3 linked regions of the Homo sapiens genome follow. The protein of the gene in region 2 interacts with the protein of the main gene of each other region in a pairwise test. Each region holds a gene or a part of one and is shown on either strand. Other genes may lie near its edges.

What was found.
Region 1: the proteins of CNTNAP2 (region 2) and CTR9 interact in a two-hybrid assay, tested with the Homo sapiens proteins (one study listed by BioGRID and IntAct).
Region 3: the proteins of CNTNAP2 (region 2) and CNTN1 interact in binary tests that used the Homo sapiens proteins (3 or more experiments, as listed by UniProt).

What each region holds. Positions count from the first base shown.
Region 1 is NC_000011.10:10,754,230-10,761,254, reverse strand, and holds part of CTR9 (RNA polymerase-associated protein CTR9 homolog), read right to left. Parts: intron 6,298-7,025; coding exon 6,058-6,297; intron 5,578-6,057; coding exon 5,460-5,577; intron 4,507-5,459; coding exon 4,417-4,506; intron 1,083-4,416; coding exon 934-1,082; intron 1-933. UniProt on the Homo sapiens protein: Component of the PAF1 complex (PAF1C) which has multiple functions during transcription by RNA polymerase II and is implicated in regulation of development and maintenance of embryonic stem cell pluripotency.
Region 2 is NC_000007.14:147,127,791-147,134,815, reverse strand, and holds part of CNTNAP2 (contactin-associated protein-like 2 precursor), read right to left. Parts: intron 6,124-7,025; coding exon 5,980-6,123; intron 2,572-5,979; coding exon 2,307-2,571; intron 1-2,306. UniProt on the Homo sapiens protein: Required for gap junction formation. Required, with CNTNAP1, for radial and longitudinal organization of myelinated axons.
Region 3 is NC_000012.12:40,688,384-40,695,447, reverse strand, and holds the start of CNTN1 (contactin-1 isoform 1 precursor), read right to left. Parts: upstream 3,010-7,064; 5' UTR 2,856-3,009; intron 1-2,855. UniProt on the Homo sapiens protein: Contactins mediate cell surface interactions during nervous system development.

The sequences.
Region 1 (7,025 bases), on a different chromosome or scaffold from region 2:
AGATAATCTTTTCCTCTGGCCTAAGGTAGTGGTTCTCAACTGGGGATGAAGTCATGTTTGGTTATCACAATTGGAGGAACGCTATCGGCATTTAGTGGGTAGAGGCCCGGGATGCTGTTAAAACATTCTATAATGGAAGGGACAGTTCCCCACAACAAAGAATTATCCAGCCCAAAACATCAATAGTACTGAGGCTGAGAAACCCAGGTATCCCTGTTTTGGACAATTATACATAAGGGGAAGCATGATGGAGAGCTTCCTTCTCAATATAAGACAGGGCTTCTCTAAGAGAAAGCCTTTTTATCCTTTCTCTTTCCTCCCTCTTTATAAGACCGATGTAATAATGAGAAGCTGGAGATGCTGCAGCCATCTTGTGACTATAAGGTGACAGACATGATGAAGAAAGGCTGCACATTAAGGAAGGGAGGACGGAATTATATAAAATCATAGGTTTGACGACAAGGACCTATCAAATTTGAGACCTTTGACAACTGGTTTAGTAAACACTAAAAGCCCTTATGTTTAAGGCACTGGGATGTGTTTTTTGTTACGTGCAATGAAAGCATTCCAAACTGATATACAAGTCTACGACCCCTTATCTGAGATTCTGAAATCTAAATGCCTTAAAAAACAAGTTTTGTTTTCTGTTTTTTTTTTTTTGGTAATCTTGGAGCAAACTTATTTGGTGGCAATACTACCTGAATTGTAACCCTATCCTACTAGTGTAAACAGTCTATCATTTTGCCACAGAAATATAAGTTTGCTTTTGGGGTAGTGCCCCAATAACTAGGTGTTATACATTACAAAGTACAGGTACCCTTCTGTAATCTGTAATCTTAATTTCTAAGACACATCTGGCTCCAAGAGTTTTAGATAAGAGGCTGTGGGCCTGACAAAGCAGTTAGGAGCTAGATACTTTTTTCATTTACATACCTCTTTATTGTTGAGTTCTAGAACAGCCAGTCCAACCAATGCTCCCACGCATTTGGAATTGAGTTCCAGGGCTCTGCTGAATGCCAGACGAGCTTTTTCCAGTTTGTTAAGTTTCACAAAGCAATGACCCATTCCTAAACGAACTTCCGCTATAAAATGAAGTCATTCAATCTATCAAACTAGGGCATTTTTTAGAGTTCAATTACAAAAATGCTTAAACATTCTCTATTTATGAGTTGCAAAATCCCCAAAATTAACCTCAGTATAACTACACTACAGAATCTTTTGACCTATCACAAACTTGGTTTCCTTGGAGGCTACATCATACCATATTCCAACCCTCTCCTCTATCACTGACACATTTCTCACTATAGAACAGAACACCTATAATACTGGTATTCTTCTTGTCTTCTAACATCGCTGCTAACCATACCTTCAATTTCTCATTATTGAAGAACAATTTTTAAACAGAGAACAAAAGTTCCACTAAGACCTTAAATAATATGACTGATTATGGGCACATACCATTGTTCCTTTCAAAGCTATGCTCATATGTGCTACCTCATTTAAGGCCATGCCAAAACACAAACAAGTTCCCATCTAAAGCCAATCACCATACTGGTCACTAGATGCCCTCTTATCTATTTAAGAATACTGCTCCAGCAACCCTCCCCTATTTTTTCTCTCTACTGGATCATTCATTCTCATCTACACATAAACGTTCTGCCATCTTATACAAATCCTCTCTTGATTCTATATCCCTTTCCAGTTGTCGATCATGTCTGTTCTTCAATAGCAAAACTCCCAGAATGATCTAGCTACGCTTGCTATGTCTAATTCCCTTCCTTCCATTTTCTCTTGAATACACTCCAGTGAAGCTCTCACCCCACCATTCCAGTAAAACTGCTTTTATCAAGGTCACTATGGATTTGTATGGTGCTAAATCCAATGATCAATTCTGTGTCCCTATTTTACTTGACCTAACAACAGAATTTGACACTGTTGGTCATCATCTTCTTCTGGAAACATTTTACATTTGCCTTTAAAGACAATGCACTTACCCTATTTTCCTCCTATACCTCTGGCTATTATCTTCTCAGTCTCCTTTGCTGATTCTTCCTCATTTCCCTAATCTCTTAATATCAGAGTGCTCTAGGGCTCCACCTCTAGACCTCTTTTCTATTTGCACTCATTCACAGCTTTATACACTATCTATATGTTGATGACTTCAGCCCAGACCTCTTTCCTGAATTCCAGCCTTTCTGCTGTCTTCACTTTGTCAATTTTAAATAACGGGATTTGGAAAATATGATTAAGTATAGAGTGTATTGGAGTGCAAGGTGTAAGAATGGCCACCAGAAAAGTACTGACTCCAAATGAATGATATCAGCATTTTCCAAAGTGAAAAAGTTAAGGTTTTAATTATTTGGGGGAAATAGAGAAGTTCTAGTAGGATTGTAACATTCTAAAATATAACACCAGGTGCCTATGTCACAGCAATTTGATTGGTTACAAATTGCTATATTCTAAAAAGATTATTTTATTGCTCCATGTGAGGGGGATCTTATTTCTGGCACCATTTGATCTTAATTGTTTACAGAAAAAAAAAGGCAGAAATTGCAACTGCATGCCACGTGACTCAGGTTGTATAGCCACATTCTTCTCAAGGCTCAGGATAAAGCTCTAAAAGCTTTAAGGCTGAACTGCTTAATTTGACAACTTATATGTCTAAAAGGTATTTCAAACTTTTCAGGTCTAAAACTAGTTCCACTTAAACTATTTCCCAAATATAGTAAAATATAACTCTACTTTTCCAATTGCTTGTGCAAGGGAGTTATCTTTGACTCTTCCTCTCTGTCTTATACATCATAGGTACTCCATCAGCTCTCCTTTCAAAATACATGTAGAATCTGACCACTTGTACCAACTCCACTATTACCTCCCTAGTGTGAGCCACAATCACCTCTGACCTGCCTGTCTGCAGATGCCTTCTCCCTGCTCTCCCTACTTCTGTCCTTGACCCCCTCCCCTTGAGCCCCACTCTAGTCTCAACCCCAAAGCTCAAACGAACCTTTTAAATATAGGTCAGATCACGTCACTCTGCTGCCCAAGGCCCTCCAATGGCTTCCCATCTCTGTCGATGTAAAAACTAAAGTCCTTACAATAATCTGTGATGCCCTACGTGATTAGTCAGTCCCTGGTTATAGCTTTGACCCCATTTCTTACTACTTTCCCCCCAACTCTTTCTCTCTCTATTCCAGAAACAATGGCCTCCTTACTCTTCCTTAAACTTACCAGGCACTCTCTTTCCTCTGGACCTTTGTACCTTCTATGCTCTCTCTCTAGGAGTGGTCTTCTCCTATATATCTGCATGGCTGCTAGTTGTTTTTTAGGTCTTCACACAAATGTCACTATCTCTGATGAGTTTCCTTGGTCATCCTTTCTAAGCAATTCCTGATGCTTCTCATACCCTTTTTCTGCTTTATTCTTCTCCTTGGCTCTTACTGGTAGCTTACACATCATACATACTTTACTATTTATCTTGCCCACTGAAAACTGGACTCCATGAGGGCAGGAACTTTTGTCTCTTTGGTTAATTGCTACATTCTCAGGGTTTAGAACACTGCCTGCCACATAGTTGGTACTCAGTAAAAATTTGCTACATGAATGACATTTTGGAAAGAAAAATAGTATAGGGCAAAAAGATTATATTATAATCTACTATCCAGACTTTTTTTTTCTTGAGACAGGGTCTTGGCTCTGTTGCCCAGGCTGGAGTGCCGTGGCATGAACATGGCTCACTGCAGCCTCAAATGCCTAGGCTCAAGTGATCTTCCTGCCTAGCCTCTTGTGTAGGTGCGACCACAAGCACTACCATGTGCGGCTGATTTTCTGTAGAGATGGGGGTCTCCCTTTGTTGCAAAGGCTAGTCTCAAATTCCTGGGCTCAAGCAATCCTTCTACCTCACCCTCCCAAAGTGCTGAGATTACAGGTGTGAACCAGTGCAGCCAGACCCTATCTATTTTTTTTTCCCCTTGAGACAAGGTCTTGTTCTGTTGCCCAGGCTGGAATGCAATGGCACAATGATGGCTCACTGCAGCCTCAACCTCCCAGACTCAAGCGATCCTCCAGCCTGAGCCTCCTAAGGAGCTGGGACCACAGGTGTGTGCCACCATGCTCATGTAACTTTTTTATTTTTTGTAGAGACAGGGTCTTACTACGTTGCCCAGGCTGGTCTCAAACTCCTGGGCTCAAGTAGTCCTGCCTCTGCCTACCAAAGTGCTGGGATTATTGGCATGAGCCATTGCACCTGGCCTTACTATCCAGCTTTTGACTCAAACATAGCATCAAAAAAAAAACTTGATTCTGACATTTCTATAATCCAACAATATCTTTTCATAACTTCATAAGCAACTGACAAATCCTCAATGCTTTAAGCTGGGTAATACACAGTTTAGACATAAAATAAAATTTTTCTCTTACCTGGACATCCTGGGTTAGTACGCAATGCTTTCTTATAGTAAGCAAGAGCTCCTCTGTAATCCTTCTTGTTGAAGGAAATGCAAGCTTTACCTGTAATGATTTTTAAAAATAAACACAGTGTCTGATTAAAGGCTACAAGTCTATTATGTTTTACACTAACTTATCTAAGTTAAATACATCTCTGAGTGAGAAATACTTGAAAACACAGAACAAAATTTCATATTAAAAATTTGTTTTTCATAAAAGTATACTAATTTATGTCTAAAAATAAAACTTCCTATTTTTATGTTAAATGTTATAAAGTTAGCAAACTAACATAGGAACAGAAAACTGAATACTGCCTGTTCTCACTTATAAGTGGGAGCTAAATGATGAGAACACATGGACACAGAGGGGAACATCACATACTGGGGCCTTTTGGAGGGTGGAGGGTGGGAGGAGGAAGAGGATCAGGAAAAATAACTAATAGGTACTAGGCTTAATACCTAAGTGATGAAATAACCTGCACAACAAACCCCCATGACCAAGTTTACCTATGTAACAAACCTGCACTTGTACCACTGAACTTCAATAAAAGTTTAAAAAATGTTATAAAGTAATAATTGAAATAACTTTAAGTTGTCTAAGTAGAGATTGTTTATTGGCTCTTCAGAAGTGTATAACCAATTACTCTTTTTTGAAAAAATTATTTTTTGTAGAGATGGGGTCTTGCTATGTTGCCCCAGCTCGTCTTGAACTCCTGGCCTCAAGTGATCCTCCTGCCTCAGTCTCTCAAAGCGCTGGGATTACAGGTATAACGAGACAGGGTCTCAAAGTGCTGAGATTATACCATGCCTGGCCTAAATAATAAATTATTCTTAACTGGTATATATTTTATTTCTACAATTTCAACAATATTTGTTGTAGGTAATTTCATTTGTAACAACATAAAGCTCTTCTACTTTGCTGTCTAGCTGAGTTATTAAGGAGCTATTACCAAGAGATATATTCTAGGCATATGCTGAAAACAACTGTTTCCTAACATGTTGCCAAAGACCACTTACCAAGAAGGGCTGGAATATTATTTGGAGACTGATTGAGTACAAAATGAAACTGTGCATCAGCTTGATCCATTTTGTCACCCTCAAGTAGGCAGAAGCAGGCTCTTCCCAACAAATGGTTCTATGAAGTAATGTATTATCTTAGATTTTACCCCTATATACCATGAACATGTAACACTAAAGTGAAAACCAAATAGGAAGGAGGTGGAGCACAGTGCAAATTCCCCTATCAAATGTAACGTGCTTAAGCTACTAACAAGCAATTCTTAATTACAAAATAAGAAATTATCCTGAAATGTAAGTCTTCTGTGCCAATAACAACAACCAAAAGAAAAATTTAAATTCCTTAAAATATCCTTGAAATTCACCTGGAGATAATAAAATTACTGGAGCAAGTTTTATGTACTACATTTGTCCATATTACTTAAACAGTACAAAAACCAAAGCATTCCGATTTTAATGAGGAACCTTTCTTCTTTTTGACTCTATCAACCATGTTACTTGAAGAAAAACTCTTTCAAAAAATCTGCTATCACACACATTTTGCTTTCATGTGCTTTTCTCCCTTCATAAATGGAAAGAAATTTGACTTTATTTTTACCTGATCATACATAATAATTTTATCGGCCATTGTATACAACAAGGTGGCCTGTGTAATAAGATCCTTTTTATTGTCCTTATTCTTTTCTTTCCGAGCCTGTTGTACATAATACGCTGCCAATGTATCCAAGCAAGTCATCTGGTCTTTTTCATGGTCTCTATAGTCCAAATTGCCATCTATACGTGCTGCTTCCAACAATTTTACAAACTCTTCTGTTTTTCCTTGCTTGTAGTATTCCAGCTATAAGGTAATGAAACAAATTAGAATCACTAAAGCATATGTCCATATAAAAAGTTGTACACAAATGTTTACAGCAGCTTTATTTGTAATAACAAAAAACTGGAAACAATCAAAATGTTGATTAACAGGTGAATGGATAAACAAGCTGTGGTGTATCCATAAAATGGATACTATCCTACAATGAAAAGGAATGAACTACTGATACATGCTACAACATGGATAAATCTCAAAATAATTATGCTGAATGAAAGAAATCAGACCAAAAAAAGAGTACATATTGTGTGATTCCATTTATATAAAACTCTAGAAAATGTAAAACAATCTCTAGTGTCAAAAAGCAGACCAGTGGTTGTCTGGCACAGGGATTAGGGGTGGGGTGGGGGACTTGTGGGGAGTGGTACAGAGGACACTTTCAGAAGGTGATGAATGTATTCATTAATCTTGATTGTGGTGATGGTTTCACAGGTATATACAGATGATAAAACTTATCAAATGGTAAATGTCAAATATGTGCAGTTTATTATAAATCCATTAGACTTTAATAAAACTGTTTAAAAAACTGGAATCATTCACAATGTTCCCAATCTGCTGCTTATCTAGTTGATTTCTAACTAAAATTTTCAGATAAGTAGAGCCTAAGAGAGAAAACAATAGTGAAAGATATGAAGAATTCTAAATAGAAAACTTGGGTTCTGGTTCTAGATCTACCAAAAATTATCTGTGATTTG
Region 2 (7,025 bases):
TAGAATAGCTGTGATACAGATATATTTCCCTTTGTTAAAGCAAACATTAGAATCCTGACTTAACTGTTTTCTCAGTGTTGCCACTTTACTAACTTATTTACACATTTAATTGAATTTGATAAAATACATTAAAAGACAGAGGAAATTATGTCCTATGGTTTCCATATGTACTTTTAGATTGAATGAATGAATATAAAATATAACTTTTTTAAATGGTTGAATTTTTTTTTCAACTAATGTTTCTCAAATATGAGCACTTAGTTTCCACTATGTATGTATGTGTGTATGTATGTCTGTATATATATATATTTATATAAAATGCTTGAAGCAGTAAGGTATTTTCACTGGATTATAGAAGGGTAATACTACGGAAATCTTTAGATTTTATATCTTTTCAATTAATTTGCACAGATTCTTGGCTAAATTGACAAAAACTCTTCAGTCCATTTTTATTAGGTTTAAGCAAATCTATTAAGGTGAATTAACTGTCATGTATTGGATTTCTTTGTTCATTCTATCTTTAATTTTCAAAATAAACACAGCTTAAATTAGGTGAGAGTATCTTGGAGTACTAAATTACACCAAATCAAATTAATACATGTTTATTGACCACTAGGGTTAATATCTTATCCTTTCAAATATATTGGCTCCTGTTACATGGAAACCCACCAGCAAATCGGATTTGCTCAGAGACTGCAAGGAGACAGGCCTTCATACTAATATTTTTATGTTTAGTCATTAGGCAATAATCATTAATCATAACAATATAATGTGGGAGTTTTTCAACTGTGGCAAACATTTGCTTTTGTTTTTGTTTTATCTGTTTTTCTGGTCTCTCCAGATATTTTCGATTTGCTGTAAACCTCCCTAGGTATACTTATAAACGAATGTAGTGATAAAATATGGTTGATTAATCATTTTGACTAGACATTCAAGGAAAAAGCAAAACTAATAAAGCAGAAATGGAGAAAGTGAATAACTAGGTATTTCCCAATACCTTTGATTTCAATAATTTAGGCACATCTCTGACATAACATTTCTTGTGGCTTCCTTGAATCCTTTTCAGTAATAGACCATACATTCAGGCCACACACAAACATAAAGCCTATTTTACAAGAAAATATATATGTTCTATAGCAGGGGATATTCTGTTAGTTGAAAGGGGTCAGAGTATTGAATTCAACAAATATTGGAGAGCACCTCTTACAGGTACTATTCTATATGCCAGAGACAGAAGAAAAAGGAGCATGGTCCCTGCTGTCAAGGAGCATGGAGCCTAGAGGGGAAAAGAGAGGGACAAAAATCATAGTGTGTTAGAAACCGTGTCAGGTATATGCATAGGGTGCCATGAGAGTATATGGCATATTCAGAAATCAGAGTCCATGGTCACCCAATTGAGCTCTCTGTCATGACTCCTTTCAGTATCTGCTACATCTGTACTAAGTGTTCAGTAAATGTTAGTTTTCTTTGTATCTCCCATTTCTAAGTAGTTCTTCACAATATATATGTATGACTATTGCAAAGACTATCTCAAGAAAAATAGATGAAAACAGTTACTATTTATCAGTCCAATATTGAGACTAATTTTTCTTTGCTTATAACATCACAATTTACAATGTCACCTTTCTTTGTACTGTATTTATCAAAGAACTTCCAAGGTTGCGAAGTCTATTCAAATAACAAGAATATTACCTAAGCCTCTATTTGTCATATCACTACAAAGCCAAATTTAAAATTATCCTATTTTTGCCTAAGCCAGTCTTCCGTCAGTTGATACACAAATCTTGTCATTCCACCTTTATATTCACTTTCGTTTTCTTTTCCAACCATTTGCATAATTTTAGCAAGATCATTTTGAAGTTCTGATTCCAGCAGTGGAATATTCCTTAAAGTTAAAATTAGTATAATCTTGTTACTAATAGTAAAAGGTACACGAATGTTGATAAAGAGAAAAGATACCAGATACAATTGTGTTTTTAAAATAAACATTCCTTGTTTTTAAACATAAATTATTCACTTAAAAGAAGAGCAATTTATCTATTAAAAATAAACTAGCATTGGTAAGGAATAGATTTTGCTTTTCCAATCTCAACCAATTTTCTCCTTCACCCATGCCTTGCTCTCTCAACAACTTTCCAAGTTTTCTTTATTCAATCAGCACACACTACAACCAAGTAAGCGTCTTGAAGATCTGAATTAAAACCTAATCCTGAGCGTGTAACACCAGCAAAACCAAACAAAGCACAACATTAACTCTGGAAATTGCAATAAGTTTCAGGAACAAATGTCAAATAGGTTTCACTGACCTGAGGAAATATCGATTTGGCTCATCTTGGTCTGTGTGATGTTGATGTGAACACCCACTTTGCTTTCAGTGAGGTCAATCTCCACATTGCCCAAATTATCCGCAAAGTGACTGAAGACCAGGAGACCATTGGGGTTCCATGTCCTAAACTGGAAACTGACTGAGAACAGGTCCTGGTTAAGCCGTCCGGGCACCTCCAGGTAACTTGTAGCGTTGAAAAAGACAGGCACCGTATAGGGTTCCACACAAGAAAAGCTCAAATTTCCCTGTAAAATAGAAAGACAGGCTCTGAGGAAAACACAGAATAAAATGAACATCCATGTCAGACCACTGATGAAAGTATAGTTCTACAAGTTTTGAAGCACAGCCTGAGCCTAAGCTAAACTCACACACAGCAGCAGAGCATGGATTCAGTGACTGGATGCACCACTACGGATCTACTTGGAGTGTAAGACCTACTACTGAGCAGCAGTTGGCTGTCTAACTATAACAAGCAGCTTCCACCATGGGATTGACAGCCAGACAGCCTGATGTGATAGGCTGACCATGAGTTGTAAAGTGTGTATGTGTGTTGTGGGTGTGACTGTGGATCACTAGACTTTCTGAAGACAGCAAAGCTACTGCTGGCCGAACATAAGTCAGGGAGAGAGATGCTCTGTCCTATTCTGGGTGGTCAATGCCAACATTAATTAACATATTACTCTGGTCTCAGTGGGGACTATGGTCATATGTTTGCAATTTATGAAACTGATATTTTAGGGAAATATATTTGGATTTTTATCTATATACCTTGTATATGCATATATAGATAGATAGATATTAAGTTTTCAGCATTAATGTAATTGTGGTTGTTGGAGATTATTTTAGTATCCAACTCAAAATCCCATTTAAATTCCCATGAATTGTGCTTATATCACAATGCATTAATTCCTGTATAACTAGCACTATAAATGGGCTAAATGGAGATAAAATTTGCAATAATTCAGGCTTTCCCCTCCCCTTCTATACTCCTCCTCCTTGGTATAAGCAAAAGAAAAAAAAGAAAAAAATATTTATCATTCAGATACACTAAATTGTATATTTCAGTGCCTAACTACATTCTCTTTACAGGTCTAAAAATCTGTATTTGCTTCTAACTTCTTTTATCCTATCATAATATTTTAAGGAATGTAATTGGATGATATTTTCATTGGTTCTATCTCTATGTCTGTCTCTCTTTTTCTCTATATATTTTTAACAACACCATATATATGTATATGGTATATGTATATGGTATACATGTGTATGGTATATGTATATGTATATGGTATACATGTGTATGGTATATGTATATGTATATGGTACATATATATGTATATGGTACATGTATATGTATATGGTATATATATGTATATGGTATATATATGTGTGTGTATATATACACATATATACATATATATACACACATATATATACACATATATATATGTGTATATATATATATACCTGATGCTGATTTCTTCCATTTTAGCACAATAACCATTAAATCTAAGGCAGGCAGTCTCTCTGAATTAATATTCAAATTAAATTTGCTCTGTACCATCACAGATGATTATTTTTAAATGCTCGCTTTTACTGATAAAAAGAACTGCCTATGCATAATAATTGAGATTTTATAACTGACCACATACCTCTTTTGAGGGGATTGTCTCCCTAGCAAAATTAAAGATCCTTCCAGAGTAACGGTGCTGACTTTGGAGTCAATGCATAATGAGGGAATGAGTATGTGGGGGAAGAGGAGGTAGAATGAGTGCTCAGTCAATTTCACTGAAATACCAGCACCCAACATCTTTGAAAGTACATTTCTTATATAAACACTTGTCTTTGCAGGGTTGCTTGCAAAATGTCCTATTTGTCTCTATCCCATCTAAGATTTTCTGTATGTATGTATATTTTGATTCAAAAGTTTATTCTATGTTTTCTCACTGCAATTATTTGTTAAAATAAAATGTAATTATAGAGCATAATCAAACTCACATATTGTGAATCCATAATCTTTTTTTATTCTTTTATTTTTGGGGGGACAGAGTCTCAGTCTGTTGCCCAGGCTGGAATGCAGTAGTTCAATCATGGCTCACTGCAGCCTCAAACTTGTGGGCTCAAGTGATCCTCCTACCTCAGCCTCTCAAGCAGCTAGGACTACATGCATGCACCATTATGCCCAGCTAATTTTTTAATTCAATTTGATTTATTTTTTTAATTTTAATTTTCTTAACTTGTTGTAGAGACATGGTCTCACTATGTTGCCCAGGCTGGTCTCAAACTCCTGGACTCAAGTGATCCTCCTGCCTTGGCCTCCCACAGTGTTGGGATTACAGCAGCAACCCACTATACCAGGCTATACATCTATCTTTTTATCTCCTACTCATAAAATAAAAGTTATTTTTCTCATAAAATAACTTATTTTTTCCATGTTAAATCGCAATGTTTTCATCTACAAAATGTTTGTATCCTTCTTGCAGTATTGTTCTCAGATCATCCTAAATATAAAATACGACTTGCCTAGCACAATACCTGTTGCCTATAAATGGAGCTATTATTATTTTTCCATAGTCAATATACTTTATGAGAAAATTTAACCAAAGTTCAAGTTTTAATTTCTAGTATAAATTTATGATTACTTTAAGAAAATTATTTATTAAATAATCATTTGCATGAAGTTATTGTTTTAAACCTTCCATATTCAACCTGAACTGTTTATTCATTCAGGGATTTCCATTTGTCAAATCATTTTATGAAACCCTGGGCTCAAATTTGAGGCAACGAGACCATCAGAGCTCTTTTGGAGCACAGTGCAAACACTCATGACATTATTGTACTTATAGTGCATAATATCTTCTTATTGTATGGGTCTCTGGAATTCTAAGCTCTCCCAAATAGCCTCTCTGGGCTAAAGCAGCTCCTGGTCTTGCAGAGCCATAGGGAACTCTCATACTAAAATTGCAAACTAAGTGTCTTTTAGGGATGTGGAGTAGTGTCGTTTGGAAGCATGTGTGCTGGGGCTTTCTTTGACTTTTGCTCTCCTTCCAAAATCTAATGAAACCTGGCACCAACTCACACAAAAGGCAGAAAAAAATCACTGTGAACTTCTGTGGCACAGCTTTGGCTATGCAGTGGAAATCAAGCTTTATTTAACTGTGTAATATTTAGTCTGGTTAGAGATTTGCTAAAAAGTGTATTTATTTACATATTCAAACAAATCATCTTTGGAAGCACAGGAGTAAATATAATAAAGTCCCTGATTTAAAAACTTTAAAAATATTAAATTAAACCATAAGCAAGTAACTTAGAGCACATGTGATGAGATATTTGAAAACACGATGCTGCCGGTTTAAGGGCTGCTAACTGCTGGGATGAAGCACGTGCCACGAGTCATCCAGAAATATTGAGTCTAACATTCTGTGCTCCGTGGGAATAAAACCAACCACCTACTTCAAGCTAGTCCCATTAGCTATTCTCAAAGAATAGCAAGTATCTATACTAATTCTGATAACTCTAATGTTTGTTTTACATCATTTTGCCCAAACACAAATATGATGAAAAATGTCATGATTTTGTTGTTGTTCAATAATCCAAAAAACAAAAATGTTACTTGATATTTTATAGACCAATATTTTGCGGGTGAAAATCCTTACCACATTTGAGGGCTCTAATTTCTTCCTTCTGGCAAGATCAGTAATGTTGACGCCATTGTAGTTGATGCTTTCCATGCAGCCTTTGAAATTCTTTCTACTGCTGGAGCTGGGCTTGCCAGAGAAAGGGATGCCTCCAAAGGTTATCTTTGAGAAAAAGAAATTAAATGTAAACGTCCACATTGTATTATGATGAACTAGACAAAACTATGAATACAGTGAAGGTCAAGTATCTATACCTCAACCAAAATATACAAATATTATAGCATTCTGCCTCCAAAATCTATGGCATATTAAATTATGTTGTTGTTGAAGTGTCTAATGGAGTCATTCATTCTGATAATTAGATTATAACTTGAACAAAAAAAAGCAATGATCCTTTGCAATTTTACTGCCCCAAAGGCATTTTATAAATTTTCTTGAGAATATTTTAAAAGATTTTTATTCAGCAAACTTCTTGTATCAAATAATATTAGAAATATATTTTTATGTTTATCATTCAAAGACATACTATCAATAAATGCCTCCAGTAAGCATGAGATAATCAGCACTAATTTAATAAGCTGATAAAACTGCAGCCCAAAGCAAGGGATATCGTATTTACCCTATGCAGACTTGTAGTCTAATGACCATTATTGTCAAAAATTCATTAGATTTATTTTGGATGTAGAAAATAGTTCAAAAAATATCATTACAATATTGATTAGGGACCACTTAGGATTTGGGAACTCAAAGTTGAGCTGTGTAGGCTTAAAGATATTATAGGTCTTTTAAATCTTAAGAAATAAGACAATGCTACTTACTGTGTTTCTCTGGCTGCTATCGCTTATAGAAAGAAAATATCCATTTCTTATACATTTTTGATCAATATACACTATAGCATTAAATTTATATGATACAAAATTGCATTTAGTATTTGCATGGTCAAGGATGATATTTACTATGAATAGTGAATTAGTAGTAAATGAAGCCAACCGCTAATTATAATATCAAGATATACAATACTTGTAATATATATCTTTTAAATTATCATACAATATTACCATTAT
Region 3 (7,064 bases), on a different chromosome or scaffold from region 2:
TCAAGGGACACAAGATACAAGAGAATACATAGAACCAGTACATAGTCATAATCCCTACTGTAGAACCGAGTCATTCTATGAAAAGATATAGAAACACCTTATGTCATCCATTACTCCTCATGGAGAGGATCATAAAGCCAGAGGAAGTTTCCTCCCAAGGCATAGCCTTCTACCAAAAAAATATCCCCAAATCATTGCTGCACCCATCCAGCTTCTTAGGATGATGCTTCCTGAACAAGAATCTTTAAGGCTACTTATTATAGGACTGTGTTCAATGTGGTGGGGTATACAAAAAGATTATAAGTGTAGTCTTTTTCTGCAAAGTACTTCCTAATTAGAAAACAAATCAGACATACAAATGAGGATTAAGCAACAAAATAAGACTAAGTATGATTAAGTTCCCAAGTGAAAATAGTCTACTAGAGATTCTGAAGAGGAGTGATCGTTTTGTTAGAACCATGAATTTTAAAATGCATTTAGTTGATACATACCTATGTATTGTTATTATTACCAGTAGCCCTGTTTATTAATGACCCACTATGCGCCCATCCCCATGATAGAAACATGCATGCTTTTTATGGCCCTCATAGCAACCTGAAATTTCAATGCTATAAAATTCCTTTTGAAGACAAGAAAACAGATTCTCAGAGTTTAATTATCTTGCTCCAAATCAGATCATCAGGAAGTTGCAGAGCAAAATTAAAAGCCAGCTCGCACTGCCTATGATGGTAACTTGGTAGATTAAATAATTTATCTTCAAAATGACTTGGCAAGTTAGAATTTTGTTCTTAAAACACAGAATTAAATTTTGTAGGGATACATGTCAGACTAGAACCGAATAAACTTGGTTTATATTGTTCCTGGTATCAACATTAACCACATTTTGTTGCCAGGACCAAAAATCCTGGGAAGCTAAAAAGTATTCTATTTGAGGGGAAACTGCTATGCAGTATAATTACACGGCAGGTTGTTGGAATATTAAAGTTTTCAGAAGACTTTCAACCAATCACTTGTGTCTTCTGAATCTTAGTTTCTTCATCTGTGAAAATGGAAAGGTTGTCATCAGGAATAAGTAATTTCAGGGAATGGCAAAGATAAATGCACATACATCAATCTATAAAAGAAAGTTCACATAGTACAAATAGATGTGATATGAAAAAGCAGTACAAATTTAAATATCAGGTCCACATGTAAAATCTGTACAAAGAAATACCTCACATCTACCCCCGCAAGGGTTCTAGCAGTTCCTTAGTCCTGGAAAGTGGGTGGATCCATTCCCAGATCCCCAAATGCTGTTAGCCATAAGTTACCACTGAAATAAATTTACTACCAAATAACCAAACCATTATGCCGAGTCTAATAAAATATCCCAGATACGGCATGTATTAATTTGATTTGCGTTACACTTCGGGCTGGTAAGGTTCATATGTACACTTAGAAACCGAAAAATGCGGCGAAATGGATGAAGATTATATTGGCACTCTAAGAATGTTTGCAAAATACTGAAATATTGAAAACATGAAATATGACATATTGAAAACATGAAATATGAAATATTGATCTTTACGTGAGTTACAAAAACATTATTTCACGCAGGGTTTCAGCAGTCTGAATGCTTCTTCTCCGGCTTTTCCCCCAATGGAGAATTGGATTCCCTTTTGCCCCGCCCACTCAGTGCTTCCAGATTGCTTGAGAAGGCCAAGGCAGCCGGCTCAGCAGCAGGGAAGCCGGGCTGGGTATGCAGGAGCTATATATAGCTCCACCTTGGAGATGTGCACACACAAGCACACGTACGAATACCCATGCCCGGTTTGGCATGAAAATAAATAAATAAATAAGGAAAGGTCGCAGCTATCCGCTTTCCCTCTTTCCCATCATCCCAATTTTTCAGGAATTTTCAAAGCAGGGTGTCATCAGTCCCAGAGGGTGATGCAGCGTCGGATCTCTCTGCAATTCTTCTGCCTACTGCTCCCAGCAATCTGACTCCTGCAGGAACCGGCACTGGGCCAACACCTACTACCCAGATGCGGTCACCTAGGGAGGCAGCCTCGCAGCCGCTCGGAGCCCATCCGGGCACAATCACTTGACTCCCTGGAAATCCCTGAAGCCAAATCCACCTTTCAGAAACTAGGTGTGAAGGTGGTTCCCGTAGACAGCGCCAGGCTAGGAGGGAAGGGGCCGTGGCTCCGCGGTCTCTCCCTCCCACCTGCCGCAGATCGTGGAGAAGGGCCGGTGCCTTCTCAACGGAGACGTAATTAATCGGAACGTGCCCTTCGAGTTGCAGGGATTCTTCCCCACCCCCATCTCCTGAAGGGAGCTAGATCTTAACAGAGGGGTCAGGGGACAAACAAGTCGCTTCCTCCCCTCTCCGCAACCGCTCCCAGGTTTTCCGGGATGCGCTAGCCAGGCGCCCAGGTGGGATGGGAAAGATGAGCAGGTGCGGGCCGGCGTCGGGAGAAAAAGACCTGCAGGCCCCGGGCTGCCGACCTCTCTGCTTCCCCACCCCTCCCCTGCCGAGGCGATATGGCATCCCTGGGGCGAGTTCCCGGCGCTGGCGGCGGCAGCCTCCGAAAGGAAAGTTGACGAGACACAGACCCCGAGCTCGGAGCCCTCTTCTAGGGCACTGCCGTCCTGCCTTGCCCGGCACCCCAGGGCTCCGGCATCCCGCACCCCTGCTTCCCCGCACCCCAGCCACCTCCGCCCCAGTCCTTCCCGCGCCGCACGGCGAGAGCTGCAGGGACCACAGGAGATTTGGGGGTGACGAGGGCTGGGCGGGGCTGGGGGAAGGGAAGCAACAGCATGGAAATGCGCATTCTTTATTTTATCTGCAAAGAAGGAAAAGTCCAGCTTCCTACCTGTTCCCTGCTCCTGCTCGCCTCGGTGCGGCACAGCTGGACCATACCCTACAGGTTTCCCACTTCCGCTGCAAACACCTGGGAGCGCATCTCCCCACCGGCGCCCCTCCTCGCCTCGGCGGAGCCCACCCTGGCTACTTGACAGCAGAAGCCCGGCCTTTTAGGGCGGTTATTGGGGCAGCAGGGAAAGTGGGGCGGGGACCACAGGGAAACCCGCTTCTCTGATTGGACAACAGGGATATCACTCTCACCCCCAGGACCAGCGCAGGCTGCAGACTTGGGTAGCTGCTAAACCCAACTGCAAAGGGTCTCTGCAGTGCCTGAAACCCAAACCTGCTGCTACCGGATCAAGGACCCTTGCTGGAGAGAAACTGGTTTGATGACTTGTCATTTGGGGCCCCAAGAGGGAGGGAGGGTCCAGGCATAACTAGACACCCAGCACTTTCCTGAAGCTTCCCTGAAGGGACCATCTGCTCCGGGAGATTTGTCAGGCGAAAATACCAAGCCAGCGCCTCATAGAGAAGAATGAGCTTCGATTAGGAAATAATAAGATACTTATGTGGGAAAAAATACACACACAGAAAGGAAAATAAAACGATGTGAGGTTTTTTTTTAAAGTTTCCATTTTTGTCCAGATGTAACATGGCAGTTTTTCTTGAGAAAAGACGGAATTGCTTAGTCTGTAATGCAGAAGACCCCCTAATATTCCCTGGTAGAAACAGTGTTTTAAACGGGAAAGCACTGCATAATAACCTCTCAAAAAAAAAAAAAGGGTAAAAGAAATTAAGGCCAAACTGCATGAGAGATTTGCTTTGGGGCAGTTCAGTTTGTGGCAAAAGTCTTAAAATAATCACCATTAGACTGATTGATAATTAAGTGATCTGTTACTTTTCTATTGATAGTAGTTTATCATTTCTTTAGTACTCAGACACTGAGAGGATGTTTATGCCCCCAAACCTAAGTGATCCCAAGCCTGCCTTTTATGTGAAGGGAACAGGGTAAAATAACTTTGTGTCCAGTTGCCATCTCTGCCATTTATTCAGGTGGAATCTGGAAATTTTGGAATTCAAGAGACTCCTTAAATGAAGGAACGTGCTAGAACTACCACGTGTAAAACTGGGAGTGTAGGGTGTCTTAGTATATAGTACCATGTGAGGAATCAAGTTGCCTTCTGCCTGCAAATAGCCACATTCTTCTTCTATCTGAATTAAGTAGCCATCTTAAGTGCTGAGCATAAGACACAACTCTCATTCTCACAGAGCTTCAAAGAGCTTATGACAGGCTTGGGACACTGGACAACTGTTAGAGAAGATGACATTGCTATTAATAAATATAGACTCTACTTAGTGGTTACGGTTGTTATTACTATCATCAGGTAAGGCTCTTCATAATGTTTTCTTCATAATACTGAAGGAATCCGATTAATGCATTTGAAGGTGGGGGCCGGGCGAGGTGGCTCATGCCTGTAATCCCAGCACTTTGGCAGGCGAGGCAGGCGGATCACAAGGTCAGGAGATCGAGACCATCCTGGCTAACACGGTGAAACCTCGTCTCTACTCAAAAAAAAAAAAAAAAAAAAAAATACAAAAAATACAAAAAATTAGCCGGGCATGGTGTTGGGCGCCTGCAGTCCCAGCTACTCAGAAAGCTGAGGCAGGAGAATGGCGTGAACCCAGGAGGCGGAGTTTGCAGTGAGCGGAGATTGCGCCACCGCACTCCAGCCTGGGCGACAGAGCGAGACTCCGCCTCAAAAAATAAAATAAAATAAAATAAAATAAAATAAAATAAAATAAAATAAAATAAAATAAAATAAAATAAAATAATAAAATAAAATAAAATAATGCATTTGAAGGTGGGAAGGGACCCTGGAGAAAATTTACAGTGAACAAATAGATATTATTTGTGTGGTGACAACCATCTTAACACTGAATGGAAATGACTAAATATGCCGTGGCAAAATTTCAGAACCCCTGTGTCATTTCTTACACAATACTCCTATTAGTCATGCACCTCTGTCCCAGGTACTCACACCAGTTATTCCATTGGATTGGCCAAATCATTCATGAATTACTGAGTACTTTTTCAATGCCATACCCTGTGTTAGGTGCTACAGAACTAAAGCAGAATAATGTATTGGACACATTAAAGATGATCTCAGGAAGCAATTACAATAGTAATATTTCTAAGGAATGTGTGTTTGCAACACGAACATCTTTTGATTCCTAAGCATAAATTATTTTGAGTCAAAATGAGCTTCAACATACTCTCCTCTAGAGGTAATCAGAGGAGAAGAAAAAGTATCAAAGAAAATACCTAAATATTGAAGACAACACAAGAATTGAAATTGGTAATGAAAAGAAAACTAAAGACATCTCTGCTATCTGCGTTCTTTCATTGCTTCACTCATTCATTCCTTCAACAAATATTACTATTATAAATGTGATGGTGAATAAAATAGGCAAGCTCTCATGGAACACATTCTTTATTCTTCAAGCAGACAATGTTACTTTGTGCATTTACTGTGATCTAATTAGCAGCTTTGTGTGTACATGCAAACACAACTCTGGAACAGTATTAAGATAATTTCTCTCTGGATCAGGCATCTCACACATTTTCAAGTAAAACAGAGCATTTTCAGGTTATTGCTTATTATCTCAAAGAGAAAAACCTGTACATATGTTCCCACAATACAAATGAATATGTCAAAGGTATCTGCTGCTGCAGAACATTTTAGATTTTCCAAATCACTTTCAGATACAATTTCCCTCTGTGTTCTAAAATAAGCAGGAGAGTCATCATTAGTCGCATTTCACCATGAGGAAATTGAGTAACCAAAGAGAAATGTGGTCCTTCAAAAACAAAGGCAGTAAACTATTATAGGTGGGTATATAATGCTTGGCATATTGCAGACATCTAATATGTATTTGCTGACAAATATATGGTTTTGAAAATATGAAAGTTTGAAGGATCTTAGAAAGTATTGAACTCCTTGTAATGCCAGCACTTTGGGAGGCCGAGGCAGGCAGATCATCGGAGGTTGGGAGTTCGAGACCAGCCTGACCAACATGAAGAAACCCAGTGTCTACTAAAAATACAAAATTAGCTGGGCATGCTGGCCCATGCCTGTAATCCTAGCTACTCAGGAGGCTGAGGCAGGAGAATCTCTTGAACCTGGGAGACGGAGGTGGTTGCGGTAAGCCGAGATGGCACCATTGCACTCCAGCCTGGGCAGCAATGGGAGCAAAACTCTGTCTCAAAAAAAAAAAAAAAAAGAAAAGAAAAAGAAAGAATTGTTGAATTCCACTCATTATTCTGTGAGGGAGGGACAGAATTTGCTTAAGGTCATGTGACTAGTTAGGGGAAAGCTGCAGCTAGACCCCAGGTCTTAAGACTTCATTCATTACTTTTTCTACCACATGAACAATAAGAGTTTTGGTATTTCTTTCAGCAGAGTTCCTTCTCTTTTTCCTCCCTGTATCATCCAGCCTTTTGATGTTTTCAGGACTGATCCAGCTGGTGTACTCATCTTCCAGCGTCTATAAAAATATGTGAAAGCATGCCACTTTAACTATAAATTCAGCTCAGATTCAACGTGCTTGTAAGTTTGAGGTCGGCTTCATGAGTATGGGATCAGAGTCATCAGGACTGGTGTCGAGGTATGAAGAAAGCTGTTGGAAAATGAATGGCCAGCTGGCACTTCTGTCCCTAAAATTAGGAAGAAGGGAATTATAGAAACAATAGTCTGAAGGCTTCCAATCTGGCAGTCTGGTATAGAACCTGTCTGCAGATCTTCAAAAGAAACAGTAGGACAATTTTGTCATGTGCCCTGGATGGCTCTGACTCCCTAGTCACTTACAGAGTTCCATAGTACAATTTACTGGGCATTGCTTTGCTAAACTGCCCTTGGCCTTATTGAATTCTCCTGTCTTCCCCTCCTTTTTCCACCCTGCACTGGCCCTCCTTCTTCAAACATTCCAATTTCCTCCAACTAGTGATTAAACCTCAGTGAAGGGAAAGGAAACTACAGCAACAGTGCAGCTTTCCACAGCATGTACTCCCTTTCTTTCTCCTCTGCTCCGCCCACCGTTTCCTCACTTCTCCAGGCTTCCCAGAACAATTTCTAACATACTCGATATGGCAAAAAAGCAGGAGAGTAAGGAAAACGGGCCTTTTCCAATTAATATTTTAAGCTGCAATTACCACAGCAGA